Linked DNA regions of Homo sapiens. The protein of the gene in region 3 purifies or fractionates together with the protein of the main gene of each other region. This does not show direct contact. Each region holds a gene or a part of one and is shown on either strand. Other genes may lie near its edges.

What was found.
Region 1: the proteins of DYNC2LI1 (region 3) and DYNLT2B purify together in Homo sapiens (affinity purification with mass spectrometry; one large-scale study listed by BioGRID and IntAct). This does not show direct contact.
Region 2: the proteins of DYNC2LI1 (region 3) and DYNLRB1 purify together in Homo sapiens (affinity purification with mass spectrometry; one large-scale study listed by BioGRID and IntAct). This does not show direct contact.
Region 4: the proteins of DYNC2LI1 (region 3) and KIFC1 purify together in Homo sapiens (affinity purification with mass spectrometry; one large-scale study listed by BioGRID and IntAct). This does not show direct contact.
Region 5: the proteins of DYNC2LI1 (region 3) and IZUMO1R purify together in Homo sapiens (co-immunoprecipitation; one large-scale study listed by IntAct). This does not show direct contact.
Region 6: the proteins of DYNC2LI1 (region 3) and NPTN purify together in Homo sapiens (affinity purification with mass spectrometry; one large-scale study listed by BioGRID and IntAct). This does not show direct contact.

What each region holds. Positions count from the first base shown.
Region 1 is NC_000003.12:196,297,741-196,301,240, forward strand, and holds part of DYNLT2B (dynein light chain Tctex-type protein 2B), read right to left. Parts: intron 1-3,500. UniProt on the Homo sapiens protein: Acts as one of several non-catalytic accessory components of the cytoplasmic dynein 2 complex (dynein-2 complex), a motor protein complex that drives the movement of cargos along microtubules within cilia and flagella in concert with the intraflagellar transport (IFT) system.
Region 2 is NC_000020.11:34,515,008-34,519,221, forward strand, and holds the start of DYNLRB1 (dynein light chain roadblock-type 1), read left to right. Parts: upstream 1-1,414; 5' UTR 1,415-1,451; coding exon 1,452-1,454; intron 1,455-4,214. UniProt on the Homo sapiens protein: Acts as one of several non-catalytic accessory components of the cytoplasmic dynein 1 complex that are thought to be involved in linking dynein to cargos and to adapter proteins that regulate dynein function.
Region 3 is NC_000002.12:43,801,539-43,805,038, reverse strand, and holds part of DYNC2LI1 (cytoplasmic dynein 2 light intermediate chain 1), read right to left. Parts: intron 3,401-3,500; coding exon 3,330-3,400; intron 398-3,329; coding exon 300-397; intron 1-299. UniProt on the Homo sapiens protein: Acts as one of several non-catalytic accessory components of the cytoplasmic dynein 2 complex (dynein-2 complex), a motor protein complex that drives the movement of cargos along microtubules within cilia and flagella in concert with the intraflagellar transport (IFT) system, facilitating the assembly of these organelles.
Region 4 is NC_000006.12:33,398,323-33,401,822, forward strand, and holds part of KIFC1 (kinesin-like protein KIFC1), read left to right. Parts: coding exon 1-65; intron 66-1,689; exon of another isoform or gene 1,690-2,322; intron 2,323-3,500. UniProt on the Homo sapiens protein: Minus end-directed microtubule-dependent motor required for bipolar spindle formation. May contribute to movement of early endocytic vesicles. Regulates cilium formation and structure.
Region 5 is NC_000011.10:94,303,305-94,307,379, forward strand, and holds the start of IZUMO1R (sperm-egg fusion protein Juno precursor), read left to right. Parts: upstream 1-1,275; 5' UTR 1,276-1,575; intron 1,576-2,316; exon of another isoform or gene 2,317-2,326; 5' UTR 2,327-2,332; coding exon 2,333-2,470; intron 2,471-3,208; coding exon 3,209-3,418; intron 3,419-3,860; coding exon 3,861-3,996; intron 3,997-4,075. UniProt on the Homo sapiens protein: Receptor for IZUMO1 present at the cell surface of oocytes (oolemma), which is essential for species-specific gamete recognition and fertilization.
Region 6 is NC_000015.10:73,598,890-73,602,389, reverse strand, and holds part of NPTN (neuroplastin isoform b precursor), read left to right. Parts: intron 1-3,500. UniProt on the Homo sapiens protein: Probable homophilic and heterophilic cell adhesion molecule involved in long term potentiation at hippocampal excitatory synapses through activation of p38MAPK. May also regulate neurite outgrowth by activating the FGFR1 signaling pathway.

The DNA.
Region 1 (3,500 bases), on a different chromosome or scaffold from region 3:
GAAATTAAGTGTACAAGGTCATACAACTAGGTAACAAAGCTTGGCTTTGCACCCAGGCAGTTCACAACCCATACCCACAGAGAAACATACACATATACCTTATATTATATTGGTTCTTTTTTTTCCTGAAACAAAAGGTCTCACATATTTATTACTGAACCCAGCCTACTATCGCAGGGCATATAAGCAAAGAGAAAAAATATATTCCCAATAAAACACGTCCAACTGTTCAGACAGTGGTGACGTTTTCAGCTTGCTATAGTAAGATGGCCGTGACCTTGATACAGCGTGAATATGTGTGCCAGCTCACGTGCAGTTCCTTATAGACCCAGCTTGGCTGTTCTGCAATGTCTCCTTTCCAGTTGTGCCTGATTTTATTACCAGTTTTCAACCAGATCCACTGGAGAATGGGACGATTTGGCTTTTGTTTCTTGGCCAGGAATCGCTTACTCTTAAAAGACTTGTGAGAAGACATGACAAGAAGCAGAATCAAGCACACACCACAAGAGAGAGTTGTTTGTTTTTTGAGACAAAAATATAAAATAGTGAGACCCCAATTGTTTTATTTATTTATATTTTATTTTTATTTTTTGAGAGGGAGTCTCACTCTGTCAACCAGGCTAGAGTGCAGTGGCACAATCTCAGCTCACTACAACCTCCACCTCCCGGGTTCAATGATTCTCCTGCCTCAGCCTTCCGAGTAGCTGGGACTACACACGTGCATTACCACGCCTGGCTAATTTTTATATTTTTTGTAGAGACAGGGTTTCACCATGTGGGCCAGGCTGGTCTCAAACTCCTGAGCTCAAGCAATCGGCCCACCTCAGCCTCCCAAAGTGCTGGGATTACAGGTGTGACTTGGAAAAAGTGTAATGGTACAGTTTGTAGCAGGCTAATAATGCTCCCACCAAGAACAGTAAGAAAAGCTGGATAAAATGAATCAGGGAGCTGCCAAAGCAAACAGGCCTAGAGGAGCCAAAATTCCAGAAAGAGGTGAACTCTAGGAGGTAAGCTGATATTCCGCAGCAGATTTTTTTCCTGGAGGATTTGCCAATTCAGGGCACAGGGCTAGATGCTGAGAATCTGGGCCTTGCTCAGGTAAAGAACAAATTACTGAGGGAAAATTTAACTAGTAGGAGAGTTGGCAGTCTTTACTTTTTAAAATTTTTTTATTTATTAATTTTACTTTGAGACAGAGTCTTGCTCTGTCACCCAGGCTGGAGTGCAGTGGCACGATCTCAGCTCACTGCAACCTCTGCCTCCCCAGGCCAAGCACTTCTCATGTCTCAGCCTCCCGAGTAGCTGGGATAACAGGCATGCACCACCATGCCTGGCTAATTTTTTTTTTTCTTTTTTTTTTTTGAGATGGAGTTTCACTCTGTTGCCCAGGCTGGAGTGCAGTGGCACAATCTTGGCTCACTGCAACCACAACCTCCCGGGTTGAAGCAATTATCCTACCTCAGCCTCCCAAGTAGCTGGGACTACAGGCACCCACCACCACGCCCGGCTAATTTTTGTATTTTTAGTAGAGACGGGGTTTCACCATGTTGGGCAGGCTGGTCTCGAATTCTTGACCTCAAGTGATCCACCGGCCTCGGCCTCCCAAAGTGCTGGGATTACAGGCATGAGCCACTGTGCTTGGCCCTAATTTTTTGTATTTTTGGTAGAGACGGGGTTTCACCATATTGCCCAGGTTGGTCTCCAACTCCTGAGCTCAGGCAATCTGCCCGCCTTGGCCTTCGAAAGTGGTAGGATTACAGGAGTGAGCCACTGTGCCCAGCAGAGTCGGCAGTCTTAACAAAGCTAAGGAGGTAAAATCAGATTCTGGAGGGAAGATCCCATAAAAAAGGAGAAAGTAGAACTGAGCGTATCACATGGTAGGTTTTCTTTTCAAGACATGCTGAATTCAGGCCGGGCACAGTGGCTCGCGCCTGTAATCCCAGCACTTTGGGAGGCTGAGGCAGGCGGATCACGAGGTCAGGAGATCGAGACCATCCTGGCTAACGTGGTGAAACCCCGTCTCTACTAAAAATACAAAAAATTAGCCGGGTGTGGTGGCGGGCGCCTGTAGTCCCAGCTACTCGGGAGGCTGAGGCAGGAGAATGGCGTGAACCCAGGAGGCGGAGCTTGCAGTGAGCCGAGATGGCACCACTGCACTCCAGCCTGGGCAACAGAGTGAGACTCTTTCTCAAAAATAGAATAAAATAAAATAAAGTAACTAGTATGACTAAATCACAAGGGTCCTTACAAAAGAAAGAGGGAGTAGGTGGGTCAGAGTCAGAGAGTTGAAGATGCTGTGCTGCTGGCTTTGAAATTGGAGGAAACGGCTTATGGGCTAAGGAGTTCAGGGGCCTCTAACTGGAACAGACGAGGAAATGGATTCAGTCTTAGAGCCTCCAGAAGGAATGCAGCCCTGCTGACATCTTCATTTTAGTTCAATGAAACCCATTTTGGATTTCTGATCTCCAGAACTGTAAAGTAATATATTTGTGCCATTTTCAGCACTGAGTTTGTGATAATTTGTTACGGCAGCAACAGGAAACTAGTACACTAAGGAAAAAGCCTCTGACATGAAGAGCAAAGTTTTATGCTGAGGAGACAAGATCTGAAAGTCAGCACCTGTTGGAGGTAGAGGCCTGCAGAGGCCTAATGAACATTCGAGGTTCTTGGTTGAAAGACTTGGAGGGCTACAATTAAGAAACAAGGGGGCCAGGCACAGTGGCTCACGCCCATAATCCCAGCAGTTTGGGAGGCCAAAGTGGGTGGATCACCTGAGGTCAGGAGTTTGAGACCAGCCTGGCCAACATGGTGAAACCCCATCTCTACTGAAATACAGAAATTAGCCGGGCGTGGTGGCGTGCGTCTCTAATCCCGGTTACTCAGGAGGCTGAGGCAGGAGAATCACTTGAACCCGGGAGGCTGAGGTTGTGGTGAGCCAAGATCATGCCATTGCACTCCAGCCTGGGCAACAAGAATGAAACTCTGTCTCCAAAAAAAAAAAAAAAAAAAAAATAGAAACAAGGGTGAGGCTGGGTGTGGTGGCTCACACCTATAATCCTAGCACTTGGGCACTTGGGGAGGCCAAGGCAGGAGAATCACTTGAGCCAAGGACTTCAAGACCAGCCTGGGCAACATGGTGAAACCCCATCTCAACAAAAACATACAAAAATTAGTTGGGCGTGGTGGCTCATGCCTACGGTCCCAGCTACTTGGGAGGCTGAAGCAGGAGGATCACTTGAGCCCAGGAGCCAGAGGTTGCAGTGAGCTGAGATCGCACCACTGCACTCCAGCCTGGGCAACAGAGTTGAGACTCTGTCTCAAAAAAGAAAAAAAAAAGGGATGAATTTAAGATAGGGCCTTTTTAAAACCACAACTCTCAGATGAGTTGGCACAAGAAAAGAAAATTTTTTAAAAAGATAAAACTGTAACCCAACCTCAATTCAGCTCAGTACCTGAAGCTAAGCGGCCAATACTCTTCCTGCACAGCAGAAGAGAGAGTT
Region 2 (4,214 bases), on a different chromosome or scaffold from region 3:
TAAGGCTGGGAGTTTTTGTGGAAAATGACTCGGAGGTGATGTGCCCTTAACGCATTTTTATCGGGGCACACGGCATCAATATCTCCCCTTGCCAGTAATACTAACTTTGATCTGGTTACGGTGGTGTCTGCTAGGTTTCTTCGCAGTAAAGTCAATCCTCTTAACATGCAGACACTCCTGGAAGGAGAACCAAATCCTTCCTCACTGAAGAGCAGCTACTGTGGAATGAAACTTTGGAGTTAGATCATCGTTGAATCCAGCAAGCTACAGTGCCTGGGAGAAACAGCATTTATAAAGTATCGAGGTTACCGATACTTCCCTGAAGCTACCGGAGATAACGTTATGTGCGTGTTCAGCACAGTAATGTGGCACAGGGTTCACTAAACGGCAGCATGTTTTAACAGAAGTTATTTACTCCTAGAGGACCCAGAAACGTTTGCGGCCTGCCGGAACAGGACAACATAGGGCTCTGGGAAGAGTCCCCCTTTCAGAGGTGAGAACAAGACAGAACACACAGATGTGAAGTGCCTTCTGCTAGGTAACGCGAGGCGGGGCTGAGCTCGGATTCTAAAGACTCCCAGGCCAGCCCTAACCAATTCATCTCCGAGCTTGCACGGCATCTTACCCGGAGACTCGAGGTACCTGACTCCAGCCCCACCCCAGGCCTGCCCGATCCCGAAGCGCATTTTGGCCCTGGGCCTCTCTCTGGCTCAGTCTGGGCGCAAAGCGGGTCTCAGCAACCGTCCCACTTGCCTTCATACCCTCCCACCACGCTCCACTCAGGGACTCCAGAACCAGCTTAGACCTCCATTGAGAGCTGAAAGCCTCTTCCGATACCGAGAACCAGCACTGAAAGCCTCTTCCGATACCGAGAACCAGCATGGTTTTTGTTTTGTTTTGTTTTAGTCAGGGTCTCTTGCTCTGTCGCCCAGGCTGGGGTGCAGTGGCGCAATCTCGGCTCACTGCAGCCTCGAACTCCTGGTCAGGCGATCCTCCTACCTCAGCCTCTGGAGTAACTGGAACTACACGAGCGCGCCACCACGCCCGGCTAATTTTGTTTATTTTTTAGTAGAGAAGGGGTCTCTCCATGTTGCCCAGGCTGGTCTCGAACTCTTGGGCTCAAGCAATCCTTCCGACTCGGCCTCCCAAAGTGCTGGAATTACAGGCGTAAGCCACCGCGTCCAGCCAGAACCAGCATCTTTTCTGCACGGCTGGAGTTGGGAATTTTCCACAGCTTAGCGCACTGCTCCTTAGCTTTTCGCTTTGCCACAGTGGAAAGCAGATTTTCCAAGAATCCTGGCGGAGCCAAGATCGGCTCGCCCGCCCCCGCCTCACGCTGGCTCCTGATAGGCAGCTAGAGCTGTCCGTTTTGACAGAAACCTTTGCGCAGGCGCAGAAAGGCACAGGACTCGCTAAGTGTTCGCTACGCGGGGCTACCGGATCGGTCGGAAATGGTGAGCGTGCGCCGGGGTCTTGTGGCTGGCGGCCGCCCACCACCCCACGCCAGGCCTTCAGTCTTCCGAGGATGAGGGGATCTCAGAGCTCCGGACAGGGAATCGGTGGTGGCTGGGCGTGGCCGGGCCCGGGCCCCAGCCGACTTGAGGGTGGAACCCGGCGGCGGAGGCCTCTAAAGCCTGACCGAGGCGGGGCCGCCGGATCCCGCTGCCCCTTGACCGGAAGCGGGAGCCCAGCCTCGGCCAGGAAGAGATGATGGGCGAGGGGTGGGCGGCGGCCCTGCAGCCTAGAGTTTTGGGGCCTTGGTGCGCGATGGCAACCCTGGCAACGTTTCCCGGGAGCTCAGTTTGTGGCAGGCTCTGCCAAGCACTTTATGTATCTTGTATTTCCTCCGCCTCCTCCCAGCTCTGTGAGGTAGATACAATCTTTAGTCCCATTTTGTTATACATATCTGTTATTCAGCGCCCCGAGAAGCCAAGTGCTTTGCCCCAGGAAATAGTGGAGATGGATTTGAACCCTAGAAGCTTGACGGCCGCCACTCTGTCGGCGTGGTTCTTTCTAGCCGCTGGGACTGGGTGCCAGAGTCAGGAACGGGCGGGGTCTGCTCTTGGGGATCCCAAAGCTTGCTTTCTACCTTGCTTGCTGCAGCTGTGGGTTCTCAACGCCGTTACAGGTTTTGTGTTTGTAATCCTCACAGCTTGGGCAAAATTTGAAAAAGTTTCAAATTTTAAGCCATGTGAATATATTACTTTTTCAAAAATCTTATTTAGAAATCTAGAGCTTGTAATAAAAAAATTGAAAAAAGAAACCGTGTCATCACCTAGAGGCAACCACTTACAGTAGTCATATGACTTCTAGTCTTTTTTGCTTGTTTTTGGTTTATACAGTTTAGCCCCTATTGAATGTGCAATTGTGGGTTCTGTGTTTTTCATTATTACACCACAATATCTCCACATCATTACAAACATGTAATAATGCTTCAAATATGTATAACTTCATTTTTCACATCACTTCTTAAGCTGTAAAAAAAATTGATATATAATAGTTGTACACATTTATGTTGTAGATATACATGTAATATTTTGATACATGCATATGATGTGTAATGATCAAATCAGGCTATATTTATTATAGAATATCCATCACCTTAAACATTCATTATTTCTTTTTTTTTTTTTTTTTTTGAGATGGAGTGTGTCTCTGTCGCTCAGGCTGGAGTGCAGTGGCACCATCTTAGTTCACTGCCACCTCCGCCTCCCAGGTTCAAGTGATTCTCCCGCCTCAGCCTCCCGAGTAGCTGGGACTACAGGCGCCCACCACCACGCCCAGCTAATTTTTTGTATTTTTAGTAGAGACGGGGTTTCACCGTGTTAGTCCGCCTCAACACGGTGGTCTCGATCTCCTGACCTCGTGATCTGCTCGCCTCAGCCTCCCAAAGTGCTGGGATTACAGGCGTGAGCCACCACGCCTGGCCCACATTTTCTTTATCCATTTACCTATTGATGGACGCTAATTCCATAATTTAGCTATTATGAATAGTGCTGCAATATGAACATGAGGATGTAGGGATGCCTTTGATGTACTAATTTCCGTTCCTTTGAATAAATACCCAGTAGTGGTATTGCTGATTTATGGTAGGTTTTTTTTTTCGTTTTTGTTGTTGTTTTTGTTTTGTTTTGTTTTTTCGATGCCTTTGTCGAAAATCAGTTGGCCGTAAATAAGTGGATTTATTTCTGGGTCCTCTATTCTATTCCATTGGTCTGTGTTTTATACCAATACCATGCTCTTTTGGTTACTATACCTTTCTGGTATATTTTGAAATCAGGTAGTGTGATACCTCAAGCTTTGTTCTTTTCGTCCAGGCTTCTTTTGGCTTTTCTGAGTCTTTTGTGGTTCCATACGAATTTTAGGATTGTTTACAGGTAATACTTGCACACAGTAAAAAAATAAATGATGTAAAAGGATCTAAGTGAAAAATAAAATTCCCACTCTCCTAACCCCCAGTCTCAGTCTCTCCTCCTTTAGAAACAACCATTGTTAGTTTCTTTTTTTTTTTTTCTTGCAAACTTGACCCTCCTGGGCTCAAGTGATCCTCCTGCCTTAATTCCCCAAGTATCTGGGACTACTGGTGCACGCCACCACACCCTGCTAATTTTTTTGTATTTTTTTTTTGTAGAGTTGGGGTTTTGCCATGTTGCCCAGGCTGGTCTTGAACTCCTGGGCTCAAGTGATTCACCCACGTTGGCCTCCCAAAGTGTTAGGATTACAGGCGTGAGCCACCACACCCAGCTGTTAGTTTCTTATGCATCTATACAAGCACTTATATGGCCCCCCTTTTTCTTACTTAAACTGTAGCTTTCTAGAACCTGTATTATGCTACTCCGTGGTTATACTCATAAAAGCAATGCAAATTTAGATGCCTAGTTTAACTTTTTTTTTTTTTCTTTTGAAACAGAGTCTTGCCCTTTCGCCCAGGCTGGAGTGCAGTGGTGTGATCTGAGCTCACTGCAACCTCTGCCTCCCGGGTTCGAGTGATTCTCCTGCCTCAGCCTCCGGAGTAGCTGGGACTGCAGGAGCATGCCACCATGCCTGGCTAATTTTTCTATTTTTGGTAGAGACAGGGTTTTTTTTCTATTTTTAGTAGAGACAGGGTTTCACCATGTTGACCAGGCTGGTCTCAAACTCATGACCTCAGGTGATCCGCCCACCTCCGCCTCCAAAAATGCTGGGATTATGGGCGTAAACCACCATGTATGTTA
Region 3 (3,500 bases):
CTTTCTAGCTTTTCTCATCACCACTGAGGCCCACTTCCAATTCTGCCAGGTCCCCTTTCAGTTGTCTCTCCCTTCTCTAACAGCCAGATAACTCTCTTTGAAAGTGGAGCAGGAACCATGTCTTACCTTTTTTTTTTTTTAACCCCCACAGTGCCTATTTACATTTTCAGCAAATGTTTAATTGATTTTTGAGCATAAAAGATGAAAACAAAGTTATCATAATAAGCCCTTTGACACATTTCCTATAACTGTTAGACAGTGCTAAAAGTCTTGCTTTTAAAAAAATTAGAAATATGTACCTTTGGTGGAAAGAGCTTTTCATACACTTTTTTCCACAACTCCATAGGTGAGTGGGCATGAAGCTTTCCAATGTCATTTTCAGGAACAGGAGGAGATCCTAAAATAGCAAGTTTTACCACAAATGACTGCAATGATTAAAATATTACAAACTCCACCAATAAAAGAAATGACACTAACAAAGGTATACATCTCGGATCACTCATTTTCCCTCTCCTTAATATAGTCACCATAAAAATTTACCCTACCCAGCATAGCAAGGTCACTGGGACAGATTCTAGTACTGAAAGAAGAGGAGGCAAAGAGTAATGGGTAAACTGTAACTCTCATTCTCCACACCCTATACCTATACCTGTATCTATATCCTATTAACCAGTAATTCCAGTTTTTGGTAGTGTTTGCCCTAGAAACACCTGCAAACTGGTACTGTATTAAGGATTTCACACTGCAGTATAATTTGTTATCAGTGAAAAATTGACCTACAACCAAAATATTCATCAGTGGTGAACAGTGCATTAATTACTATGCATAGCCATGCTCTGTAACACTATCCAACAGTTAAAATAAGAAATAGACCCACATACAGCATTAATATGGAAAAACTACTAAGGTATATTGGTATATTGAATTAAAAGGTACTGAATAATAGGGTATATTGAATAAAAAGGGGAAATTCCAAAATGATATAGACTGAACACATAATTACATTAAAGCAAATAGTTTTTTTACACTATATACACATGTGTGTAAAGGCATAGGAAATTGGAAAGAACACAAATTTGCTCCTTGTATGTACTCTTTTACCTTTTTACAAGGAGATATCTTTATGTGTTACTTGTATAATTTAATTTGAAAAATTTAAAACTTTGCTGCCATTTGCAATTTGTAACTGGATATTTCCCATCTTTCTATTTCCAACAACTGTATTGTTCCCCAAAACTGTTTTACTGGTGATCTTCCAGGACATCCTTACCACTTTGGTGCGAAAGCCATTGATACGCTCCACTGATGTTATTCAGCTTTGCCAAGTTTTACTTGTATTCCTTTGTGTGTCTGTGTGTATATTAAGTTCTATACAATTTTATCACCTGCATAGGTTCATGTATTTGCTACCACAGTCGAGACACCAACTTAATTCCACTAGCACAAAGATCCTGTGTTGCCGTTTTATAGACATAACCTCCTCCTTCCCGACCCCTCCCCTGGTCTCCCCATCCATAGTTCTATCCCTGCCCTCTGACCACCACTAATCTGCCTCCATTTCTAAAATGTTTTTCATTTCAAAATTTTTTATAAATAGAATCACACTGTATGTAATCTTTTCTAATTGGCTGCTTTTCACTCAGCATGATTCCCTGGAGATTCATCCAGTCTGTGTGTATCAATTATTTGTTCCTTTGTATGACTGAGTAGTGTTTCCTGGTACAGATGTACCACAGTTGTTTAGTCACTCACCTGCTGAACAACTTCTGGGCTGTTTCTAGGTTTTGACTACTAAACATAAAGCTGCCATGAACATATGCCTAGAGATTTTTTGTGTGAGAGTTAAGTTTTCATTTATCTTGGATAAATGCCCAACAGCACAATTTCTAGGTCATATGGTAGTTGCATGTTTAGTTTCGTAAGAAACTGTTAAACTGTTTTCTAGAGTGGCTGTACCATTTTACACTCCCACCACCAATGTATGAGAGATCTGGTTTCTCTGCATCCTTGCCAGTATTTGGTGGTGTCACTATTTTTTATTTTAGCTATCCTGTTAAATGTATAGTGATATTTCATTGTGGTTTCAATTTGCATTTCCCTAACAACTAATGATATTAAACACCTTTTCATGTGCTGCTTTGCTATGTTTATGTCCTCTCTGAAATGAAATGTCTGCTTATGTCTTTTGCCCACTTTCTAATTGGATTATTTATTTTTCTGTTGAGTTTATATATTCTAAACACTAGTCCTTTGTCATATATGTGGTTTGAAATTCTTTTCTCCCACACTATGGCACGTCTATTCATCTTCACATGGGCTTTCATAGAGCAAAAGTTTTTAATTCCGATGAGATCTAGGCGCCATGATTTTTAAATTCAGCAATTATGAACTCTCTTCTGGCCTCCAACTATTCATAGAAGCAAAAGAATTCCATCAGCATTATCTATCAGTACAACAGTGATTCTCACTGCTACTGGAATTAAGTTGGTGCTAATTATAATCATAAACATCAGTCTCCATGACCATTCACTAAGCAAAATCACCTCCATTCCTTTCATTCCAATTAATCTATAATCTCATTACAAAGATTTCTATATTTGAAGTCAAGTCACCTTTAGCTTGTAAGACTAACAGAGGATGGGAAATACAAAAAAAAAAAAAAAACCCTACTGCCCATTAGAGTTTTAAAAGCAAACTACGCCACCTGCAGAGGATAAAGAAGTGCGAGGCTCAAAGATCTTCACAATGAAAACAGTTTCTGTGGGAAGGTAAGGGCCTTGAGATATAAACTCTTAAACTTCCTTTTGATTCAGAAGCCTATAGAGTCTATGAGTTTAGGAAATACATTCCATTAGATGAGGCATGCTATTTCATAACAAAAAATCAAATCATACCTAATTGTTACAACTGTGTTCTTTTTGGTTTACTCTACCACTTCAGTCTCTCATATACTTGCTAATTGCCTGTAATATGTAGCTTTGAATTTCCTCACTACTCTATGCTCCTAGCTTCTTTAAAGCCAAGGAGCTAAAATTTAAAAGTACCTGGAAATCAGTTGGGGAAAGAAAATACTTGCAATTTGTTTTTCAGTGGAATAGAGATCAGAAATGAAAAATCAGTCTCTTATGTGGTGACATCACTTCCATCACAAACATGTCAATGTGATGCATGTTACATTAATACTGGGCATATAAACAAACACACAGGAAATAACAGCAATGATAATGAAACCAGAAATAGGAGTATGTTGGAGACAAAGTGAACATGGAGTAGGACAAAATCAATAAGCAATTAAAAAAAGATTGAACAATCTTAATAAGTTCACTAACCTATTTGACCGAAAGAATCCAATCCTGCTGTGATAAACAGCGGTTTATTCTGATCCACACATATTGATTTGCTACGTGGAGAAGAGAAAGATTCTAAATTAGTTTAGCAATTAGATTTGCTGCCACGCTCTCCTGTAAATATGACAGCAATATTATCGGCTAGTTTTACAT
Region 4 (3,500 bases), on a different chromosome or scaffold from region 3:
TACCACATCCCACCCAAGAGTTCCATCCCTCACTACAGTGCCACAGACACAAGGCCAGACCACAGGTGGGCTCTCAGGATGGATAGACTCCAAGGACATGGAAGTCCAGTGCTCTTCAACTCACTTGTTTCTTTTCTTTCAATTTTATTTTATTTTTTTTGAGACAGAGTCTCGCTCTATCGCCCAGGCTGGAGTGCAGTGGCTCAATCTCACTCACTGCAACCTCCTCCTCCCAGGTTCAAACGATTCTCCTACCTCAGCCTCCCGAGTAGCTGGGATTACAGGTGCCCACACCATGCCCAGCTAATTTTTGTATTTTTTTCAGTAGAGATGGGGTTTCGCCATGTTGGCCAGGCTGGTCTTGAACTCCTGACCTCAGGTGATCCACCCGCCTCTGCCTTCCAAAGTGCTGGGATTATAGGTGTGAGGCACCGCACCCAGCCTATTTTGAATAGGTAATAACATTTCATTTGGTTCAAAATTCCAAAGGCACAAAGGTTGTTGTATAGTGAAGTTTGCTTCCTATTTCTGTCCTCCAGCCACCCAATTCTGCTACCCAGGGCAACTGTGTGTTCTTCCAGGGAAATTCTATTGGTATTCAAGCAAGTAAGACTATACTCCCCCACCTTTTTTACATAAATGGTGGCATACTTTAGACATGGTCCTGCTTTTACTTATCTTAATCCAAATTGCTTTTTGGCATATGGAGTACAGTTGGCCCTCTGTATCCGTGGGTTCTGCTTCTGCAGATTCAACCAACCATCGGTTGAAAATATTCAAGGAGAGTGGGCACAGTGGCTCATGCCTGTAATCCCAGCACTTTGGGGGGCCAAGGTGTGTAGATTACCTGAGGTCCGGAGTTCCAGACCAGCCTGGCCAATATGGTTGAAACCCTGTCTCTACTAAAAATATAAAATTAGCCAGACGTGATGGCCCGTGCCTGTAATCCCAGCTACTCTGGAGGCTGAGGCAGGAGAATTGCTTAGAACCCAGGAGGTGGAGGTTGCAGTGAGCCGAGATTGTGCCAGCCTGGCGACAGAGCGAGACTCGGTCTCAAAAAAAAAAATGAGAAAATATTCATGGAAAATAAAAAATAAAACCAAAAAATACAGTATAACAGTTATGGTCATGTGTCACTTGGCAATGCAGATACATTATCAGAAATGCATTATTGTGGAAACATCATAGAATGTACTTACTGAAACCTAGATGATCTAGCCTGCTACACACCTAGGCTATCTGCGATAGCCTATTGTTCTTGGGCAACAAGCCTGTGTGGCGTGTTACTATACTGAAGCATGGTAGGTAACATAACACAGTGGTAACCATTTGTGTATATAAACATACCTAAACATAGAAAAGGTACAGTTAAAATATAATATAAATGATAAAAAATGGCACACCTGTACAGGGTACTAACCATTAAATGGAGCATGTTTGAATGGAAGTTGCTCTGGGTGAGTTAGTGAGTGAGTGGTGAGTGAATGTGAAGGCCTAGGGCCTTACTGTACACTGCTGTAGACTTTAGAAACATGGTACAGTTAGGCTACATCAAATTTATAAAAAATAGTTCTTTTATAATAAATTAACCTTAGTTTACTATAACTATTTTACTTTATAAACTTAACATTTTTTTTCCCACTTGCCAAGGCTGATGTAACATTTTAATCTTTTTTTAACTTTTTTTTTTCGACCAGTTGTCAAATGATCCTTTATTGAAATATTTTCCTTTGTGCTTAACTAGCTGGGCATTCCACAGCACCACTGTTGATGTCATCTATGATGTCATGAGGGTGGTGGCCATCAACATTACAGCCCATAGACTGGGCAGTCCCCGGAATCTCTTTAATGGTTCCAGAGAGTTCTCTGGCTAAGGATCGGTGCCGCATCTGTCGAGCAATGTTGACGATCTCATCAAAAGTGATATTCCCATTGTGTTTAATGTTTTTCTGTTTCTTTCTGTCTCTTGGTGGTTTCTTGAGGGCTTTGATGATCGGGGCAGAGGCAGAAGGCACCACCTCAATCTGGGCCTGTCTGTTCTCAATGGTCAGTTTCACTGTAATCCTCAGGCCCTTCCAGTCACCCGTTGCCTTGGCAATGTCATCACCAACCTTTTTTGGAGACAGACCCAGGGGGCCGATCTTGGGGGCCAGGGCAGAAGTGGCACCGACTTCACCTCTGGTGCACCTCAGGTATACGACCTTGATCTCGTTGGGGTCGAACTTCGGTGGCATGGTGGAGGCAGCTGGTGTCGGATGAACCCAGATTCAGGATGACCGAAGAAAGTTGCACCTTGGCCTCCTCCGAGCCGAAAGCCGAGAGCTTCTCTCTCTTTTTTTTTTGAGATGGAGTCTCGCTCTGTCGCCCAGGCTGGAGTGCAGTGGCACAATCTCGGCTCACTGCAAGCTCCGCCTCCCGGGTTCCCGCCATTTTCCTGCCTCAGCCTTCCGCGTAGCTGGGACTACAGGCGCCCTCCACCACACTTGGCTAATTTTGTTTTTTTGTATTTTTAATAGAGACAGGGTTTCACCATGTTAGCCAGGATGGTCTCGATCTCCTGACCTCGTGATCTGCCTGCCTCAGCTTCCCAAAGTGTTGGGATTACAGGCGTGAGCCACTGCGCCCGGCTAACTTTTTGACTCTTGTAATAACAACTGAAAACACAAACATTGTATAGCTTTACAGAAATATTTTATTCCTTTATATCCTTATTCCTCATGCTTTTTTTCTATCTAAATTTTGTTTTGGGCGGGGAGCATATATTCAGGGCAATATGAATCTCTGTCTCCTGGCTTGAAAATAAAATTTTTGTTTTTTGTTTTTTGTTTTTGAGACAGAGTCTCGCTCTTTCGCCCAGGCTGGAGTGCAATGGCGTGATCTCGGCTCAGTGTAACCTCCGCCTCCTGGGTTCAAGTGATTCTCCTGCCTCAGCCTCCCGAGTAGCTGGGACTATAGGTGTGTGCCATCATACCCAGCTAATTTTTTGTATTTTTAGTAGAGATGGGGTTTCACCGTATTAGTCAGGATGGTCTCGATCTCCTGACCTCGTGATCCGCCCGCCTCAGCCTCCCAAAGTGCTGGGATTACAGACATGAGTTACTGCGCCCCGCCTGAAATTCTTTTTTTAATTTAAAATTTTATTTATTTGTATTTTTTCCAAGAAATAAGCTTAAATTTGAAAAATTTTAAATATTATTTTGCTTTTCAAACTTTTTGTTAAAAACGAAGAAATATACACATTAGCCTAGGCCTACATAGGGTCAGGATCATCAACATCACTGGCTTTCACCTCCACATCTTGTCTCACTGGAAGATCTTCAGGGGCAGTAACACACATGGAGATGTGACTTCCTGTGATAACAATGCTTTCTTCTGGATTGCCTTTTTTTTTTTTTTTGAGACGGAGTCTCGCACTGTCGCCCAGGCTAGAGTGCAGTGGCATGATCTCGGCTCACTGCAAGCTCCGTCTCCTGGGTTCACACCATTCTCCTGCCTCAGCC
Region 5 (4,075 bases), on a different chromosome or scaffold from region 3:
TGACAGCCTGCTTCTCCCTCTGTCAGGCTATAGAGATGCTATTACCATTTGGTATCTGACCCTAAGGAGGAGACTCCAGGCTCTGCTTAACGTGGGGACATGGGAGACTGGGTTAATAACTGTCACTGTTCTAGAATAAAGCCAACACACGCCTCCCAATACATGCACAACCTCATTATGGCATTTAACGTTAAAAAAAAAAAAAAAGCAGACCTCACTTGAGACCCAGGCACCCAGGCAGTATCTACTCTTTTAGTCCCGGAGGTTTCTCCCTCACCTGGTCCTTAAGCATTAGATAGGGAGTCGAGAATACCTGAAATTATATCCCAGCTCTGCTACTCACCGCTGAGCCTCAGTTCCCCACAGCTAAAACAAGGAGGGTGTTCATATTGGAGGTCTTTTTGAGACCTCAGATCCTGTAGACAGTACCAGGCCAGTGCCTGGCTCCTTGTTTGTGCTCAGCATTCAGTGGCTGTGATTACCCAGGTGTGGAGAATGTCATTTTCCAACATTAGTATATGCTTTACACATCAGTTGTAGCTGAACACCACAGAATGTATTTTATTCCATTAAAAAAACGCTTTTAGTGTTTTGTTTTCATTTCCTTTGTATCAATAAAACTTCAGTGATTTCAGCTACTTCTCTTTCAGAGAGAGAAAGAGAGGACATATTATAAAAACAAAGAAATATGCTCCTTTTCCAGCATTTTTATCATCTTTGGGACTCTCCCAAGAATCCTATCCAAGTTTCCAATCTCTCCTTAGCTGAAAAGGATAGTCTTGCAAATATGATCACTGCTGAGAACACTTGTAGAATATTTCACAGGACAACGATTCCTGTATGCTAAGGGAGGCTGCTTGGCGGGTTATGGAGGGACTTTCTTTGTTTTGTTTGCTTTGGCTTTGTTTGTATGTTTAAATTCTTGGGTCCCCAAGGCCACACTTCATCTCTGCATCCTGTGTCCTCGGTCTGTGCTCCAGCAGGGACCATAGTTCCTGTGGGCTGTGCGAGGACACTGTCAGAAAAGCCACCAGGTGACTGAGCTGATGCTTGGCTAACAGTGAAGGGGCAGGTAGAGCTACGGAACAGAACATAGGAGGGGCGTGTGGAGAGAGGATAAAAGAATAAAATTTAAAACCATTAAGACTTCCTCTATCCCAGGCACAATGCCAAGGTTTTTGTTCATGAACTTTCTCTTTATTTTTCCAATCCCATAATAAAAACTTCCTTTACAGAGAGAGAAACTGACAGAGAATTTGAGTCATTTTCTCCAGGGCAGCCAGCTAGTAAGTAGCAGAGCTGACAGCCGAACCCGGTAACTTATTGTAGAGCCCCGGATCTTGCCTACGATGGGGTCTGTTTCTCTGAGGAAGCAAACTTCCTCGGAACCCACAGGCCTGCAGAGCTGGGTGAGACAGATGCTGTTTAATGAGAGCCACGTGGAGTTCTCCTCCTGCACCTGGACCTAGTAGAAATCAGACTGGGTAATAAATGGGCGGGACATGGAACTCCCCTCAGCCTCATAGTCTCAGGGGGAGGAGGGAGCAGGAGCACCTGAAGGCTCCTGCCTTGAAAGTGAGTATGAAGAGAGTGCTGGAAGGGGCAGCATCTTTCCTCCTTTTACCTAACAGATCTGATTCTTTAAAAATATTCAAGGCCATGGCTGAGCTTGAAACTGGTTGTCTGGAGAGAGAACAGCCTTAGATTTGGACTTGAGGTTGGGCTCTGAAGAGGGGGGCTGGGCTCTTCTTCCCCAGGATGTTTGAGGCTCTTAGACCAGGGTAGGCTAGAAGTTTCCAGTTTCACCATGATGGGTCCAGGTCAGGCTCCTGCCAGACTTGGGGGACTGGGGGAGCCATGGGCTCCTGGGCTATGAAGGTGAGGGGCCCTGTGTCCTAAGAGGTTGGGTGCTTGAGGCCTGGGGCCCCTCTGCCTTTTGCTTTGTTTTGTCTCTCTTTCCACTACCTCTCATTACCACTACTACCCAGAACAGAGTTGGAAATAGGAAGGGCCCTCCTCCTCATTCCTGTGATGGGGATCAGGCTTTGGATGTAGAAGGCTCCTCCTATCTGACTCATGCCTCGGCATGCCCCTGGCTCTGCAGGGCCAGCAAGGCCTCCAGCACTGTGTCAGGCCTCCAAGGATTATTCTACCTGCCCTGACATTCTGTGATGCTGCCTCCAAAAGAAGGTCCTAGGAGCAGCCAGAGTGTTGCAATTATTTGAGGGAGATTGAAGCCCATCCCCCTTTCCCAGTGCCTGCTATGATGAAGGGGGTGGAGTGGGGTGTCATTTCCATCAAGTGTGCAGCATGGGTCTCTCTGTAGCAGGCCATGGCATGCTGGTGGCCGCTCCTGCTAGAGCTGTGGACAGTCATGCCCACCTGGGCTGGGGACGAGCTGCTCAACATCTGCATGAATGCCAAACACCACAAGAGAGTGCCCAGCCCAGAAGACAAGCTCTATGAGGAGGTACAGAGGCCAGACCTGGGTATGGGATGGGGAAGATCAGGGAAGGGACACAAATGCCAAGATGGTCTCCGAACCTCATCAACCCTGATCATTTGGTTCCTGGGGTTAGGAGTTAAGCAAAGGCAACTAGATGGAAAGAGACTATGCCTTTTTGAGACCATAAGAGCCAAGCGATTCAAAGTTCCCATTTCTGAGCTGCTCTAGCCACTGGGAAAGCAGGGACCGCTGGTGATCCCAGAGATCCATTGTTGACTCGGCACAGATGAAAACAAGCCTTCCTGCCAACAGGTCCTGGGGCAACATATGACTTATGTGACCCCTCCCCAAGCTCCTAAAGGCAATTTCCAGGGATATGGGAGGAAGAACACAGCTGGCATTTGGCCTATGAGACCCTCCCACCCAATGCAACCCCAGATTCCCCTGGGTCTCTCTGGGGCTCTTCTACCTGCTTTGCCCTAAAAGGCTTCTGCTGCCTCTCAGGAGCTGAGAGCCCAGAAGTTGTGTTTCTAGAGGACTGTAGCAGCCTGTGGCAGGGGGTCATTGTGCAGGTGCCTCTGCCCTTTGGGTAAATATTGAGAGATTATCAGGGTTCCTCTTATGTAGGGGCTTACTAGCTAAAGGCATCCCACTTGCTCAGGCCTCCTAAGGGACATTTTCATTTCACCACCTTTCTTCCCTAGACACTTGCCGATCCTTGCCCCTTTTGCCTGGGCCTTTTGTTTCTTCCTCTGCCTTCAGTGCATCCCCTGGAAGGACAATGCCTGCTGCACCCTCACGACAAGCTGGGAAGCCCATCTGGATGTATCCCCACTCTACAACTTCAGCCTGTTTCACTGTGGACTGCTGATGCCTGGCTGTCGGAAGCACTTCATCCAGGCTATCTGCTTCTATGAGTGCTCCCCAAACCTGGGGCCCTGGATCCAGCCAGTGGGAAGCCTGGGGTGGGAGGTAGGAAGCAGATCTGTGCCATGCCCTGTTATTATATTAACAGCCAGAGCTTTCACCCGATCTTATGCTGATGCCGCCAGGATGCTAGTAGGAACAGGAGGTGTTATTTCCCTATGGACAAGAGCAGAGCCAGAGGCCCCTGCTGGAGAATCACATGGGGGAGACTGTTCTGACAACAGTGGGATGAGGGGCTATCACCACAGGAGGCTTGGTGGAGTTGACAGACCTGAGCTTCAGTCTCATGTTCTGTCCCTACCAGCTGTATAGCCCAGGACAAACTATTAAATCTCTTAGCCTCATTGGTATTATTTGTAAAATAACACTTAGAGGCTTTATGGAAGATGATGTACATATGGTACCTGGTACAAATACCACTGTAGCTATTAGTAGTCTTCACATCTCTGCTATTAATGTTCTAATCTCTGGCTATGACTGCACCCAGGTGGCCCCGAGTGGGCAGGGAGAGCGAGTTGTGAATGTGCCGCTGTGCCAGGAGGACTGTGAGGAGTGGTGGGAAGACTGTCGCATGTCTTACACATGCAAATCCAACTGGCGTGGTGGCTGGGACTGGAGTCAGGGTGAGTGGTGCTGACAAGGCCTTGGTCGGGAAGAGGCCCCTTGGTGGTCCCCACAAGGGTGCAGGTGCAAAGGCTAGCA
Region 6 (3,500 bases), on a different chromosome or scaffold from region 3:
CTTATGATCTTGGCTGTCATTTTCTCTTTATTGCGAGGAACGAAGGAGAGAACAGCATGAGCCAGCCACAGGGAATTAGAGGTAGAGGGGGTTTGAAGGGAACAGCTGTTTTTAAAAGAGGTGACAAAAGCAGGCAAGACTTAAAGGCCTGGCCTTGGCAGTAGTCAGTTGAGGGAGAGAGAAAGTTAGTCTGATTTCTTGTTCTGTGGGTTGCCCTGGAGGTAAATGTGAAAAATCATGATAGTCTCTCCTATATAGGGCTAGGCTAGCTTTTTTTACTTCCTTAGGGCATATATGAAAGCAGTTTTCCTGGGATTGGGCTCAACTTGCTCTTCTGTGTTTCCTTTTTCTTCTCACCCTCTGCTACATATCCACACATCCAGTTTTTCCTGCCAGCAAGCTCCTCCTTTTCTCCGGCTGCTAGTCCCAGCTGTCATCTTTGCCTCCCATCCCCCATCCCCAGTTATGCAATTTTACATTACGCTTCTCTTGGGTTTGCTGCCTCCATTTTTAATGCTCTGCCTGCTACCCCCTCCAGCATCAGCTTCTAGTCTCTTCCTCCCTCAAAGCCAGTAACCACTGTTCAGTTTCCCTCTTTATCACTGTTGCTCTGAATGCACTGATATTAATACTTTCCCAAAACTCTTGCAGATCTGGGCCCAGTCACTTAAGATAGTGGGTGGAGACGATGGTGGGGAAGAGGGTGGGGTAGGAGGTTGTCTTACAAAATTTAGGGTTTTTCCAAAATATTGGATGACCCTTGACCTAGAGAGCAAACAGATGCTTCTGTTGGCCTCCCAACTTTAGGCAGTGTGTGCTTTCTTGTTGAAGGTACATATTTGTTTGAAAGCCCTTAGTAATGAAAGGCAGGGCAGTGAGTCAGGCTCTGAACCTCCTGCTGCTGCTGCTGAGAGCCAGTTCTTTTCCTGAATTGAAGCTAATTTTGGATGGATAATAAGGTGGATGGTTGCTAATAACTTTCCCTTGCTAATTGTGATTTCACAGTACTTTGTAAAGAGGGTTCTTTTCTCTTTTCTCTTTTTCTTTTTCTTTTCTTTCTTTTCCATGCTGTTTGGAGGGGGAATAGATCTCTTTTCATGGTTTTTGATGAGTGTTCAGCTATCAAGGAATTCCTTAGTTTGTTTAGAGGCAGCACAGTTTATTGGAAAGAACCCTAGACTAAGCTAAGACCTGCATTCTAGTCCCAGCCCCACTCAGGATTAACTGCCTAAGTGATTTTGGGCAAGTCATAAACCTGTCTCCGCACCTGCCCTATGTATGAACCTTGTGGAACTGTGCGAATGAAATGAGATGTGATGTATGTGGAAGCTCTTTGCAAACTGCGGAGTTTTATAAAACTTTCAGGTGCTGCCCTTTATTAATTTGGCTCCTGACTACAGCATCAGAGAAATTTTTCCAGTGTCTTGTAAATTCCTTCCTTCTCTGAAGCCAGCCTTCTCCAGAGCAGGGCATTGGAATCATCAGAACTAGAGGCAGTCTTGCCTCAGAATCATCTTATCTTTTCACACTGTTCACCCTCCCCCCAGTTGCTTTAAGAACTCTTTGACCCAGTGCTTCTCTATCTCCATTCTCTAGTAAGATTATAATTTTATGGAGTTAGTGATCATAGTATGTTGCACAATTGGTCAAAGGTTCCTGGCTTTTTGTGGCCAGGAATTATTATTAATTAATTTATTAATTAAACTAAGTGGTGACAAAGCATATCTTTAACTTAAGTAACTACAAAAACCTTTTCAGGCCAGTGAGACACATTGACCACAGTTGTGGTAAGTGTTAAGAGACCATGCTTTCACTTTGGATTCCAGGCCAGACTCTTTGTTATTAGCTTGTGACCGTGGGCAAAATATTTAACTTTTTTGGACGTTAGTTTCCACATCTTTAAGAAAAATTATAATGGCACTTATCATAATGAATAAATGAATTTTGAATATGATAATGAATAAAGTGCTTAGCACATTGCCTAAACATATAATGCATACTTAGAAAATGTCACTGTTACTCTATATGTCTAATAATGGTAATAACAATAATGGCCTTCAAAGACCATTGTTGGCATTTTAAAGGGTTTTTTATCTTGTGTTTTAAAAGTTCATTTAAATATACATCCTATAATTTACTAATGCAAAGAACATTTTTGTCTTGGTCCCATTTTCCTTGATACAGGTAGAAAATTGAACTGACTCAGATCAGCATTCCTTACTCTTAGCAGGAAGTCTTGCCCAGGGTGGCATGATCTGGCTGAGTGACTCGCCCAGTTGTGTGCAGTGGGAATCATAGTCAGACTGTTTCTCAGCTACCTGTGACTTGTGTGTTATTAGGACTTGGGGTTACAGTGGAATTGGATGGATTCTTGGTGAAAGGATACTTTCAGGCATCTTTTTTACATTAGCATTGTCAACAGATTGATAAACAGGCTTAAGTCTAAGGCTGCTTTGAAGTACAATACAGAAGAAGGGAAAAAGTACAAAAGAAATCCACTAACAGTTCTAGGGCATAATCGAGTACATAATTACCGCATTTGAGAGGCTGTAACTCCCCAAGTTCACAGATAATGTGATAAGACCATTTGTGATTACCACTTATGGTCAAGAATATGATTAAAACAGAATAATACTTTTACTGCATTTCAGGGATTTACTGATATCCAGTTTTCTCTGGTGATTGAGCCAGTAGTAAAATAAATAAAACCAACTTCCTTTACTTCCCCTCCCTCCCTCCCTTCCTTTTCTTTCTTTCTTTCTTTCTTTTTTTTTTTTTGACGGAGTCTCGCTCTGTCGCCCAGGGCAGAGTACAGTGGCACGATCTTGGCTCACTGCAACCTCCGCCTCCTGGGTTCAAGTGATTCTTCTGTCTCAGCCTCCCGAGTACCTGGGACTACAGGTGAGCACCACCATGCCCAACTAATTTTTGTGTTTATAGTAGAGACGGGGTTTCACCATACTGGCCAGGCTGGTCTTGAACTCCTGACCTCATGATCCTCCCGCCTCAGCCTCCCAAAGTGCTGGAATTACAGGTGTGAACCATCACGCCCGGCCCTCCTTTACTTCTTTGTTTATATTAGCTGGCATTGACTTTGACAGGTGGGCAGGTGGTAGTTTGTGAGACCGAGACATGGCTCCTTGGATACCACTTTATTGGGCAGTGAGCTCAGCTCTTCATGCAGGGGCTTGGGGGCTCCTTTCTGTAATTCTAAAGCTTCTCCTGCATCTGAGAATGACATCTGTTGGGCTTCTTGGGGCCTCTGGTAGATATTTCCTTACAAGGAATGCATGCTGGATCTGAAGAGGTAGTTTAAAATGGCATATTAAAGGCAGAACGTTTAGTCTAAGCCTGTTAATCACTGCATTCCTGTGCTCCCCAGAGTCTGAAAATGTCAGGAATTGAAAGACTAGTATGAATTTGGAGGTCTTGGCCTCTACTTGAGTAAGTATAGTACCTCCATTAATGTTCTTAGTCCATGGTGTGGGGTTATCACCAAA